Linked DNA regions of Homo sapiens. The protein of the gene in region 2 purifies or fractionates together with the protein of the main gene of each other region. This does not show direct contact. Each region holds a gene or a part of one and is shown on either strand. Other genes may lie near its edges. The genes, in order: ASPSCR1, HAO2 and EIF4G3.

What was found.
Region 1: the proteins of HAO2 (region 2) and ASPSCR1 purify together in Homo sapiens (affinity purification with mass spectrometry; 2 studies listed by BioGRID and IntAct, with this or other methods). This does not show direct contact.
Region 3: the proteins of HAO2 (region 2) and EIF4G3 purify together in Homo sapiens (affinity purification with mass spectrometry; 2 studies listed by BioGRID and IntAct, with this or other methods). This does not show direct contact.

The regions. Positions count from the first base shown.
Region 1 is NC_000017.11:81,980,488-81,984,312, forward strand, and holds part of ASPSCR1 (tether containing UBX domain for GLUT4), read left to right. Parts: intron 1-3,066; coding exon 3,067-3,181; intron 3,182-3,825. UniProt on the Homo sapiens protein: Tethering protein that sequesters GLUT4-containing vesicles in the cytoplasm in the absence of insulin. Modulates the amount of GLUT4 that is available at the cell surface. Enhances VCP methylation catalyzed by VCPKMT.
Region 2 is NC_000001.11:119,385,666-119,389,490, reverse strand, and holds part of HAO2 (2-Hydroxyacid oxidase 2), read right to left. Parts: exon of another isoform or gene 3,495-3,825; intron 2,870-3,494; coding exon 2,660-2,869; intron 1-2,659. UniProt on the Homo sapiens protein: Oxidase that catalyzes the oxidation of medium and long chain hydroxyacids such as 2-hydroxyhexadecanoate and 2-hydroxyoctanoate, to the correspondong 2-oxoacids.
Region 3 is NC_000001.11:20,939,298-20,942,897, reverse strand, and holds part of EIF4G3 (eukaryotic translation initiation factor 4 gamma 3), read left to right. Parts: intron 1-567; coding exon 568-1,407; intron 1,408-1,502; coding exon of another isoform or gene 1,503-1,522; exon of another isoform or gene 1,523-1,654; intron 1,655-3,600. UniProt on the Homo sapiens protein: Component of the protein complex eIF4F, which is involved in the recognition of the mRNA cap, ATP-dependent unwinding of 5'-terminal secondary structure and recruitment of mRNA to the ribosome. Functional homolog of EIF4G1.

The DNA.
Region 1 (3,825 bases), on a different chromosome or scaffold from region 2:
TGGGCTTTCTGCCCCAGACCTTCACACCATCCTTCTCCAGTCTCTCTTGTCAACTGAAGAATGCGGTTCATATGTTTGGAAAGGAGGGCTTTATTTCTCATAACCGGTTGCAGCTTGCAGGGTGGCCATTCTAACAGGCTGGGAAGTGTAGCCTCCAGCCAGAAGCTGGAAACAGACACTTCAAGAGAGGGAAGAATAAGACAGGGATTTACACCGAATGGGGTGGCTGATACAGACGTACTTAATACGCTGTAGGAGGATCATGAGTATTCATGAAAGGAGAACTGTGCACACAGTTGAGCTTCCTGCCTCTTCACGGGTCCTATGTGCAAAAAATGGCAGTGCCAGCATGACCTGAGGGTGGAATTTTTGGCCTCTGAAGTCAGAGGTGAAGCAGGCTGGGTGAAGTGGCTCATGCCTGTAATCCTAGCACTTTGGGTGCCCGAGGCGGAGGATTGCCTGAGCCCAGGAATTCGAGATCAGCCTGGGGAACATAGTGAGACCCTGTCTCTACAAAAAAAGTAAATAAGTAAATAAATAAATAAATGGCAAATCAGAGGACATGAAGACTGTGCCACGAAAACCCTGACTGTGCCAGAACCACTCCATGGTTGGTGGTTTCTTATCAGGAAATACCTGTGGGTTGTTTTGAAGAAACCGCAAGAGAGAAGGGCCTGGCGGGAGGTTGGCTGATGTCAGATACCAGCCCAGGGGTCTTTGGAAAGGGCTGCTTTCTGTTTATCCCTTAGGGAAGAGAGCCTGCAGATGTGTCTGATCTCCCACCCAGCCATGGCCAGGAACTCAGCTTTCAAGGTTTCTGGGGTCCCCTGGGCCAAGAGGAGGCTGGTTCAGTTGGTTGGGGGGGGCTTAGGGTTTCATTTTTATTTCTTTTTTATTTTATTATTTTTTGAGGTGGAGTCTCGCTCTGTCACACAGGCTGTAGTACAGTGGCGCTATCTCGGCTCACTGCAACCTCTGTCTCCCAGGTTCAAGTGATTCTTCTGCCTCAGCCTCCCGAGTAGCTGGGATTACAGGCGTGCGCCATCATGCCCAGCTAATTTTTGTATTTTTAGTAGGGACGGGGTTTCACCATGTTGGTCATGCTGGTCTTCAAGTCCTGACCTCAGGTGATCTGCCCGCCTTGGTCTTCCAAAGTGTTGGGATTACAGGCATGAGTCACTGTGCCTGGCCATTTTTCTGAAACAGAGTCTTGCTCTGTCACCTAGGCTGGAGGGCAGTGGCATGATCTCAGCTCACCGCAACCTCTGCCTCCCGGGTTCAAGCGATTATTGTGCCTCAGCGTCTTGAGTAGCTGGAATTACAGGCACGTGCCACGCCTGGCTAATTTTTGTATTTTTAGTAGTGACGGGGTTTCACCATGTGGACCAGGCTGGTCTCAAACTCCTGACCTCAAGTGATCCGCCCGTCTTGGCCTCCCAAAGTGCTGGGATGATAGGCGTGAGCCACTGCACCTGGCCTCATTTTTCTTTCTTTTTTTTGAGACGGAGTCTCGCTCTGTCGCCCAGGCTGGAGTGCAATGGCGCGATCTTGGCACACTGCAACCTCCGCCTCCCGGGTTGAAGCACTCCTCCCACTTCAGCCTCCCGAGTAGCTGGGACTACAGGCCTGTGCCACCATGCCTGGCTAATTTTTGTATTTTTAGTAGAGACGGAGTTTCACCACATTGGCCAGACTGCTCTCAAACTCCTGACCTCAAGTGATCTGCCCGTCTGGGCCTCCCAAATTGCTGGGATTACAGGCATGAGCCACCGCGCCCAGCGCATTGTTACTTCTCAGTGTTCACCTGCCCGTGGTCTGTGTGGTGGTGTCTGGTGGGAACCAGTGAGTGCGATTTTGAGGCAGGTCCTGCAATACCATAGCCATGTTTTCAGGTGCCCTTTTCCTCTGCTAATGGTACCACTTGCTTACAAAGTGCAGCCGGTGCAGAGGAATGCAGCCCCAGGCGTGAACAGTGCCCTCCGCTCCAAGGTTCCCAGCCTGCCTGCCCTCGGGATCCCCCGATCTGCTATCCTGTCTTGACGTAGACATTTCATGTGGCAATTTCCAGACTCACTTTTCTGGCCAGTGTTGATATAGCAAAGTTTGTTCTCTCTTAATTCTTCCAGATGCCCCTGGGCTGTCTGAACTCTCTTCACTAGTTGTCTCCGACAGCAGCTTGCATTTCCAAAGTGAGGCCAACCACTTTGAGTATATTCAGATTTTTCTTTTCTTTTCTTTCTTTTTCTTTCTTGTTTTCTCTTTCTTTCTTTCTTTCTTCTTCTCTTTTTCTTTTTCTTCCTTTCTCTTTTCTTTTCTTTTCTTTCCTTTCCTTTCCTTTTTTCTTTCACAGAGTTTTGCTCTTGTTGCCCAGGCAGGAGTGCAGTGGCATGATCTTGCCTCACTGCAGCCTCTGCCTCCCGGGTTCAAGCGATTCTCCTGCCTCAGCCTCCCGAGTAGCTGGGACTACAGGCCTGAGCCACCATGCCCAGCTTATTTTTTTGTATTTTTAGTAGAGATGGGATATTTTTGTATTTTCAGTAGAGACGGGGTTTCACCATGTTGGTCAGGCTTGTCTCAAACTCCTGAACCTCAGGTGATCCGCCTGCCTCGGCCTCCGAAAGTGCTGGGATTACAGGCGTGAGCCACTGCGCCCGGGCAGTCAGGTTTTCTGTGGTGGCTCCAGCCGTGACGGCCGGGGTCTGTGACACTCCAGCTTCCGCGAGTGCAGCAGTGTTCACGCCCCAGTCGTTCTCTCTGTGTTTTCCGAGCGTCTGCACTGGGGCTGTCAGCACCCCAGACTCTGAAGGAGCAGCCCCCTCGGCGTGCACCGAGGCCCACATCTCCCTTTTTCCTGCTCCCTTCTGCTTGCAGGAGGCCCCATATGATCGGGGACCCGCCTTGTGCCTCTGCAGGTCATGACGTCCCGCTGTTGGGGAGCTGCCACAGGACGTGGATGGCGGGGCGTGGATGGCGGGGCGTGGATGGTGGGACGGGGATGGCGGGGCGTGGATGGCAGGGCGTGTCAGGCTCTGCAGGGCAGCAAGTGTGCTCTGGTCTGTCTTGCAGGTTTCAGAGGAGCGTGCTCGACCTTTCTCTCCAGTGGAGATTTGCCAACCTGCCCAACAATGCCAAGCTGGAGATGGTGCCCGCTTCCCGGAGCCGTGAGGGGCCTGAGAACATGGTGGGTCGTGCTCTGGGGGAGGCTGACTGTGTGGGGCACAGGATCGTTCAGCTGGCCAGGGACGGGGGACGGGACAGTGGGGGGTGCTGGGGAAGGAGGGACATGAGTCTTAGCACCAGTTCTGCCTTCCCTGGGTTGGGCCCAAACAGCTTCCTGTTTTTTGATAACTGGCAACTGAAAATGAGCATCTCATGTTTTTTTTTTTTTGAGCTGGAGTCTCGCTCTGTCGCCCAGGCTGGAGCTCAGTGGCGCAGTCTCGGCTCACTTCAAGCTCCGCCTCCCGGGTTCACACCATTCTGCCTCAGCCTCCCGAGTAGCTAGGACTACAGGTGCCCGCCACCACACCCGGCTAATTTTTGTATTTTAGTAGAGGCAGGGTTTCACCATGTTGGCCTGCTGGTCTGGAACTGCTGACCTCATGATCTACCCGCCTCGGCCTCCCAAAGTCCTCCCAAAGGATTGCAGGCGTGAGCCTCTGCGCCCCGCCCACGTCATTCTTCATGTGGAAGTTTTTCTTTCTTTCTGGGGTCAGTTGTGCCTTCCCTGGCTCAGGGTGTCAGCAGCATTCACCCACCAGCCTGACCACCTGCTCATAGAATTGCCCAGAATGTTAGAGCCGAAAGCGCTGCATGGATGCCGCAAGG
Region 2 (3,825 bases):
ACTGCTACAAGAATGGCCATAATCAAAAAATAATAGATGTTCATGTGGATGCAGTGAACAGGGAACACTTCTACACTGCTGGTGGGAATGTGAGCTAGTACAACTATTATGGAAAACAGTGTGGAGATTCCTTATAGAACTAAAAGTAGAACTACCATTTGATCCAGCAATCCCACTACCAGGTATCTACCCAGGGGAAAAGAAGTCATTATATGAAAATGATACTTGCACGCATGTTTATAGCAGCAGAATTAACAATTGCAAAAATGTGGAACCCACCCAAATGCCCATCAATCAATGAGTGGATAAAGAAACTGTGGTGTATATATATATATATATATATATATATATATGATGAAATACTACTCAGCCATAAGAAGGAATGAATTAATGGCATTCGCAGCAACCTGGATGAGATTGGAGAGTGTTATTCTAAGTGAAGTAATTCAGGAATGGAAAACCAAACATCATATATTCTCACTCATAAGTGGGAGCTAAGCTATGAGGATGCAAAGGCATAAGAGTGACACCATGTACTTTGGGGACTAAGGGAGAAAGGGTGTGAAGGGGGTGGGAATAAAAGACTACAAATAGGGTGCAGTGTATACTGCTCAGGTGATGGTTGCACCAAAATCTCACAAATCACCACTAAAGAACTTACTCATGTAGCAGACACCACCTGTTCCTTAATAACCTGTGGAAATAATTTTTTTAAAAAAACTCAGATAAATGATGTTTGAACACAATGTTTTAAAAAAACAAATGGCAAACTCTGACCTGTGAGCTGGAAGTTTGTTTTTATAAATAAATAGACCTGGGGCTAGGATTAAGGTGAGGCAAGTGAGGCAGGGTTATACAAGCACAGGGTCAGGTTTCACCTGAAGCAAAACCCTCACGAGACTCACACTGATATTTGTGCTGTCTCCAAGTGAACTTGAGTTTGGATGTGAAGCCAAATGGCTTGGGAGAATATCAAGTTGATTAGCACAATAAGATAGGAGAAATTCTCCTCTCCCTGGCCCCTACCTTAGCCAATACTCATTCTCTAGTGGGGAAGCACAATGGGAGAATTAGTCTTCCTCTTTGTCTACTCATTACTCAGTTATTCCAAAAGAACAAGACCAGCTAAGTTGATTAATGAGAGCCTGACACCTATTGTATGATGTATTTTATTAGCTTTCTTTCAAAAGCCTATATTCTACTGTTTGCTGCTTGTTGGTAATGGGCTCTTCATTGCCTTCTGCTCCTATTTAGGCATAGTTGGGATGACCCAGGGCATGCTATGCTCTTTTGCTTTCTCTGTTTTGCTAAATACTGGATGGCTTGTAGGCATCCTGGCAGGGGTTGGGTGAGAGAGCTCAGTGTGTGCTCAGCCCAACCACTTTCTCCTAAGTTTGCAGGTCAATAGGTGAGATGAAAAGCAGGAGACCCAACCACTTCGGTTCAGCTCTTACCAGAGAGACACAGTGAAGGGTGACCCCTGCTCTCCACGTGGGCTTGCATTCCACTGCCTTTAGCAGTTAGAGCTGGTGCAGAGGAGGAGGTGAGTGGCTGGCTCTTAGGCTTCCAAGCATCACGTGTCTTGGAATGTACCAACCAGCTAGTGCAAATTTCTAATTCCTGGAATTTATCTTAAAGAAGTACTTGAGATTGTGCTATGGATTCAGTCACTGATGTGTTGTTTAAAATAGGGAAAGATTAGAGGCAATACAGATGTTCTACAATGGAGGTTGGTTATATAGTTGTCTGTTCATACTACATACCATTAAAAATAAGAGGAGCATATATACTGAAACAAAAAGTTGCTCTTAATATAATGCTAAGTAAAAGAAAAAAACACAATATTATTTATACTTTTCTTAAACACCAAAAATTGTATTTGCATTAAGAAGATGTTAACAGTGACCAAAATGTTGACGTTAGTGATAGTGATAAAATTAGTGTTAATTTTTATCTTTTGCTTATGTATGTTTTCTAATTTATCTGCAGTGAACATGTTTTATTTATATAAGTGTCAATGAAACTGAAGAGGAAAAAACCTCATTTCTCTTTCTTAAAACAAGTCAAGCAGCAATAGAACATTTGAAAAAATATAACTCAATGAAAACAAATCAACAACAAATTCCCATGTAAAGATTCTTTCCCTGCCTTACTTTCTCTCACTTTCTTGCCCTCAAACTTCATTTATAATGAACATAAATTTATGAGTTAAGGGAAAAAATTATGGACTTTTATAGATTTTAGCAAAAGACACATCAGGGTGTTTTTAGAGTTTTGCCATGAAACGTGTTTACTTTAGAACATCTGTCTAATCAAATTCAACATTAATTATTTATTATCTTAAGTGAACTAAAGATAAGTTATTTAACATCACTAAACTACAGTATCCCCATTTGCAAATCAGGGATAATAACACCCATCTTGCAGCATTGGCATGAGACTTAGAGATGCTATATGTAAAGGTTGAAAAAACAGCTTAGCACACAGTAGGCTACTAATAATAATTAACAGTCCTTAAAATTCACAGATACATACCAACACATGTGGTACAGAGGAGTGAAATATGCTCAGATTTCACAGAGTCCCTTGATGTGGACACACTCACACATACACACACAGCACTCACAAACACACCCTTCTCTGAAGTAATCCTACTTACTGAAGCAAGAACCTCATCAAGCTGCCTCCCACCATGGTTGGAAACAATGATACCCTGGACATTGTGCTTCACAGCTAACTCTGCATCCTCTTTTGTCAAAATCCCTTTCAGGATGATGGGCAATCGAGTTATGCTCTGAAACCAGGAGAGATCATTCCAGCAGAGAGAAGTGCTGATAGGAGTCATCTGGAAATAAGGTATTGCATTTCCCTATAGGAAATAAAAAGGGAACTTAGTCCTGAGCTCTCACAAGGCTACTTGATGCATTCCAAAGATGAGACACATTTAGAGAGCTGCCATTTATAAACTGGAAGGAGGAAGAACAGGGCTGGGCATGGTGGCTCATGCCTGTAATCCCAGCACTTTGTGGGGCTGAGGCGGAAGGATCTTTTGAGCCTAGTAGTTTGAGACAAGCATGGGCAACACACAGAGACCCTGCTGCTGCTCCTCTAAAAAAATAAATCGTGGTGCATGCCTGTAGTCCCAGCTACTCGGGAGGCTGAAGTGGGAGGATCGCTTGGGCTCAGGAGGTCTAGACTGCAGTGAGTAGTGATGGCGCCACCACATACTAGCCTGGCTGACAGAGTGAGACCTTGTCTCAAAAACAAACAAACAAACAAACAACAAAGAAAACAAAAAGAAACAGGAGCAACAAAACCCAACAACGTTTCTAGCTCCTTTGTCTAACAAACTTTGTATAAAAGAATTTCTACTTCAATTGCTTATCATTGACCATGAATCATGTTGTTGTCAGTAATTGTGCTAGGATCTGGGGACACAAAGACAAATAAGACAAAGTTTCTACTTTAAAAAATTCAGAGTTTAGTATATAAGATGGATAAGCAAAAGCATTTATTGGTCAATGTGATATGTTACGGTTGAGGCATACCCAGGATAAGAACTAAGCAATACTAAATCAGTTATTACCCAATATTTACTCTTGGCTCACCATGTACATCAAACATTTATAAATCTCAATGTGCTTCTGGAATTTGAATAAGGATTTTGGAGCACCTCAAGGCCAATCTGTGATTAATGAGAACTGTTGAGTTACTTGGCTTGGTGTCACAGTTGCCCACTGGTTGAAAAGGCTGGCTTTAGTATCTCTACTATAGCCAGGGATTCCCACTTTATCATGGCTGTCTCTCTCTGAGGCACTTCTTGCC
Region 3 (3,600 bases), about 98 Mb from region 2:
AGTAAATTTCATTAAATAAAATGTGATGCTTTATCTTGAGTTTTTATACAAGTAATACTTTTTAAAATAAAAATTATCTCCCCAAATACAAAAATATATAGAATAAAAAATAACATCAGTCCCTTTATAATAATTTAATTTTTAATTGTTTGCCCTTGTACTGTTTTGCCACTGTAATATATCCTTGGAAAAAAAGTTTTTTAGGGAACGAGAAGTGGTAGAAATGAAGGTTTTCCTACCTTAAAGAAAAGCCTCACTCTTAAACCAAGAATGGTTTAGCCTCAGTTTTGGTGAGCTTTTCAGTTGTATTCTTGATATATAATTTTTTGGTGAATAGATTCCTTCTCTTACTCCAAAACAGACTTTATGTATTGGATACCAAGTAAATAGTAGGTTTAAGTAAAAAAAGAAAAGAGACAATGTTTTTGGCATACCAGAATAAGTCTAATATATTGGTCTCTGTTCTGTTACCTGTAATTTAGGGTAAGACATTGAAAGAATTGGCCCAAGGCAATATGTAGTCTCTGATCCAAGAATTATTCTTAAAACTTATTTTTTTTTCCCCAGAGGAGAAGCCAAAACCAGATCCAGTGTTAAAGTCTCCTTCCCCAGTCCTTAGGCTAGTCCTCAGTGGAGAGAAGAAAGAACAAGAAGGCCAGACATCTGAAACTACTGCAATAGTATCCATAGCAGAGCTTCCTCTGCCTCCATCACCTACCACTGTTTCTTCTGTTGCTCGAAGTACAATTGCAGCCCCCACCTCTTCTGCTCTTAGTAGCCAACCAATATTCACCACTGCTATAGATGACAGATGTGAACTCTCATCCCCAAGAGAAGACACAATTCCTATACCCAGCCTCACATCTTGCACAGAAACATCAGACCCTTTACCAACAAATGAAAATGATGATGATATATGCAAGAAACCCTGTAGTGTAGCACCTAATGATATTCCACTGGTTTCTAGTACTAACCTAATTAATGAAATAAATGGAGTTAGCGAAAAATTATCAGCCACGGAGAGCATTGTGGAAATAGTAAAACAGGAAGTATTGCCATTGACTCTTGAATTGGAGATTCTCGAAAATCCCCCAGAAGAAATGAAACTGGAGTGTATCCCAGCTCCCATCACCCCTTCCACAGTTCCTTCCTTTCCTCCAACTCCTCCAACTCCTCCAGCTTCTCCTCCTCACACTCCAGTCATTGTTCCTGCTGCTGCCACTACTGTTAGTTCTCCGAGTGCTGCCATCACAGTCCAGAGAGTCCTAGAGGAGGACGAGAGCATAAGAACTTGCCTTAGTGAAGATGCAAAAGAGATTCAGAACAAAATAGAGGTAGAAGCAGATGGGCAAACAGAAGAGATTTTGGATTCTCAAAACTTAAATTCAAGAAGGAGCCCTGTCCCAGGTAAGCCATTCTGCCATTAATCTCGTGCTTGCTGAACATGAAGAAGAGGCAGTGTTTGAGTTATTTTTTAATTGGCTACTTTCCTTGACTTCCAGAAACATCGAATGAATGCTGAAATTCCTAGTCTGGTTTCTTCAGTGGTGTGTTTGTGTTTTAGTACAACCTGCAAAAGAGTTACTCCATTGTCTAAAAATGCAAATGAGAATTTCCAAATATACAAAATGCCTCCAAGGTATATGTCACGAAACATGTTGGGTTTTGTTGTTGTTGTTGTTGCTATTGCCTCATTCATATGAATTGGTTTCTCAATGCTTAATTTTGCTGCTTTGGGGCTAGAAAACAAAAAACCAGGATGGTCTATAGTCCCTAATTCTGTCTTCCTAGAATTTTAAAACCCAGTCAATCCTAAAGGAACTCTTCTATGCATGACCAGTTTTTAAATCTTGGATGTAGGAAGATAGCAATCAGAACATCAAAGGTTTATAACTATTTTTGAAAATATAATGCTGTTGTTGATTCACTTGCAGGTAAGCTTAACGTTCTCTCACTTTGCCTTTTGAAACAGTTTTATTTTTTGTGTACATTTTTACATGGTCATTAATATCCTTGGAGTATTATATTCTTCCCAGTTCAAATTATTTCTTTTTAATGTAGCATCACCTGGGACCTTAGGAACTAACCATTGGGTTATTGTAAGTTTAATCAAAAGTTATCTGAGGCTTATCAGCTATTCTAGGATAAGTTAGCCCATAGGAATATTGAAGTTTTGGCTTTGAACAATTCAGCACAGCCTATCTTCTGCAACATTGCCCTATGCTATATAATTTCCTTTCTCTGTGCCTGTCAGATTAAGTAATGCGTATGTAAATTGGGCTTTTTGATAAATGAGTGCTCCTCCAGCAGTTGATCCTTGACATGCAGTGAATAGGTTTTGGTCACCATCATCCTCAGTATTTTTGTCTATTTTGAGGTGTATAATAAGGAAATTTGACAAACCCAAAAGCTGATCCCTACTTTTGAGATGTGGCTTTTCTACCCAGCTCAGTTCTTGAGACAATTTCCTCATCAGTGTCTGTAAGAGGTGTCTGGCCTTTTGGAACTGCAGAACATCTTGTAGAACACCATGAGCCAGCACAGGAAAGAAAACAATGCAAGGCAATTGGAACAGTGAGAAATTTTTCATAAATCTTTGTAAATTACCTGTTTCCTCAACTATCTGGCTTCCATTGACATCAGTATTCATAGTGCCATCACTGTTTTAGGAAACTTGTTCCTTGGTGGAGAGATGACCTTAGACCTTGTTTTGTCAGTTACCCTTTAGAAAAACAGCCTTGGGGCCGGGTGCAGTGGCTCATGCCTGTAATCCCTGCACTTTGGGAGGCCGAGGTAGGTGGATTGCCTGAGCTCAGGAGTTCGAGACCAGCCTTGGCAACACAGTGAAACCCCATCTCCACTGACATACAAAAAAAATAGCCAGGCATGGCAGTGTGGGCCTGTAGTCCCAGCTACTCGGGAGGCTGAGGCAGGAGAATTGCTTGAACCTGGGAGGCAGAGGTTGCAGTGAGCCAAGATCGTGCCGCCACACTCCAGCCTGGGCAACAGATCGAGACTCCATCTCAAAAAAAAAAAAAAAAAAAAAAAAACTAAACAACTTGGTGTTGGTGTGGCTGTAGGTAAATGCCCTCCGAAGAAACACGTGTTTGTTGGAGAACAGTAATTTGTTTGACACTTCAATGTTCATTTTCATTTGTAGTGATACGATAGTTACAAAAATGAGAGAAACTAATGAACAAAAATGTTTTTAAAATGTAAAAGCAAAGAAAAACAAAACAATCATAGGAAATATAAGTTGAAGATACAAACCATACCTCAGAATTGAAATAAGTGTAAAGTGAAAAGACCATGCATCAAAATCATACTTCACTCATTTCTGACATATATTCTTTTTTTAAACATCAGTTTGCCACTTAGATGACCTGATATTGCAAGACAGTGCCCAGGGATGGATGGGCAAACAGAATTTTGGTTTAAATAATGTTCATACCATGGTACATTTGTTTGAAATGCAGATGCTCTCAATATTAGTATTGTGAACACCAGCACCTTAATCAAAGAGTATAGACTCTTCAGTGGTAATCCAGAGAGCACTTAGAAAAGAAAGAACTGTTTTTTTAATGACTTGGAATAACAGAG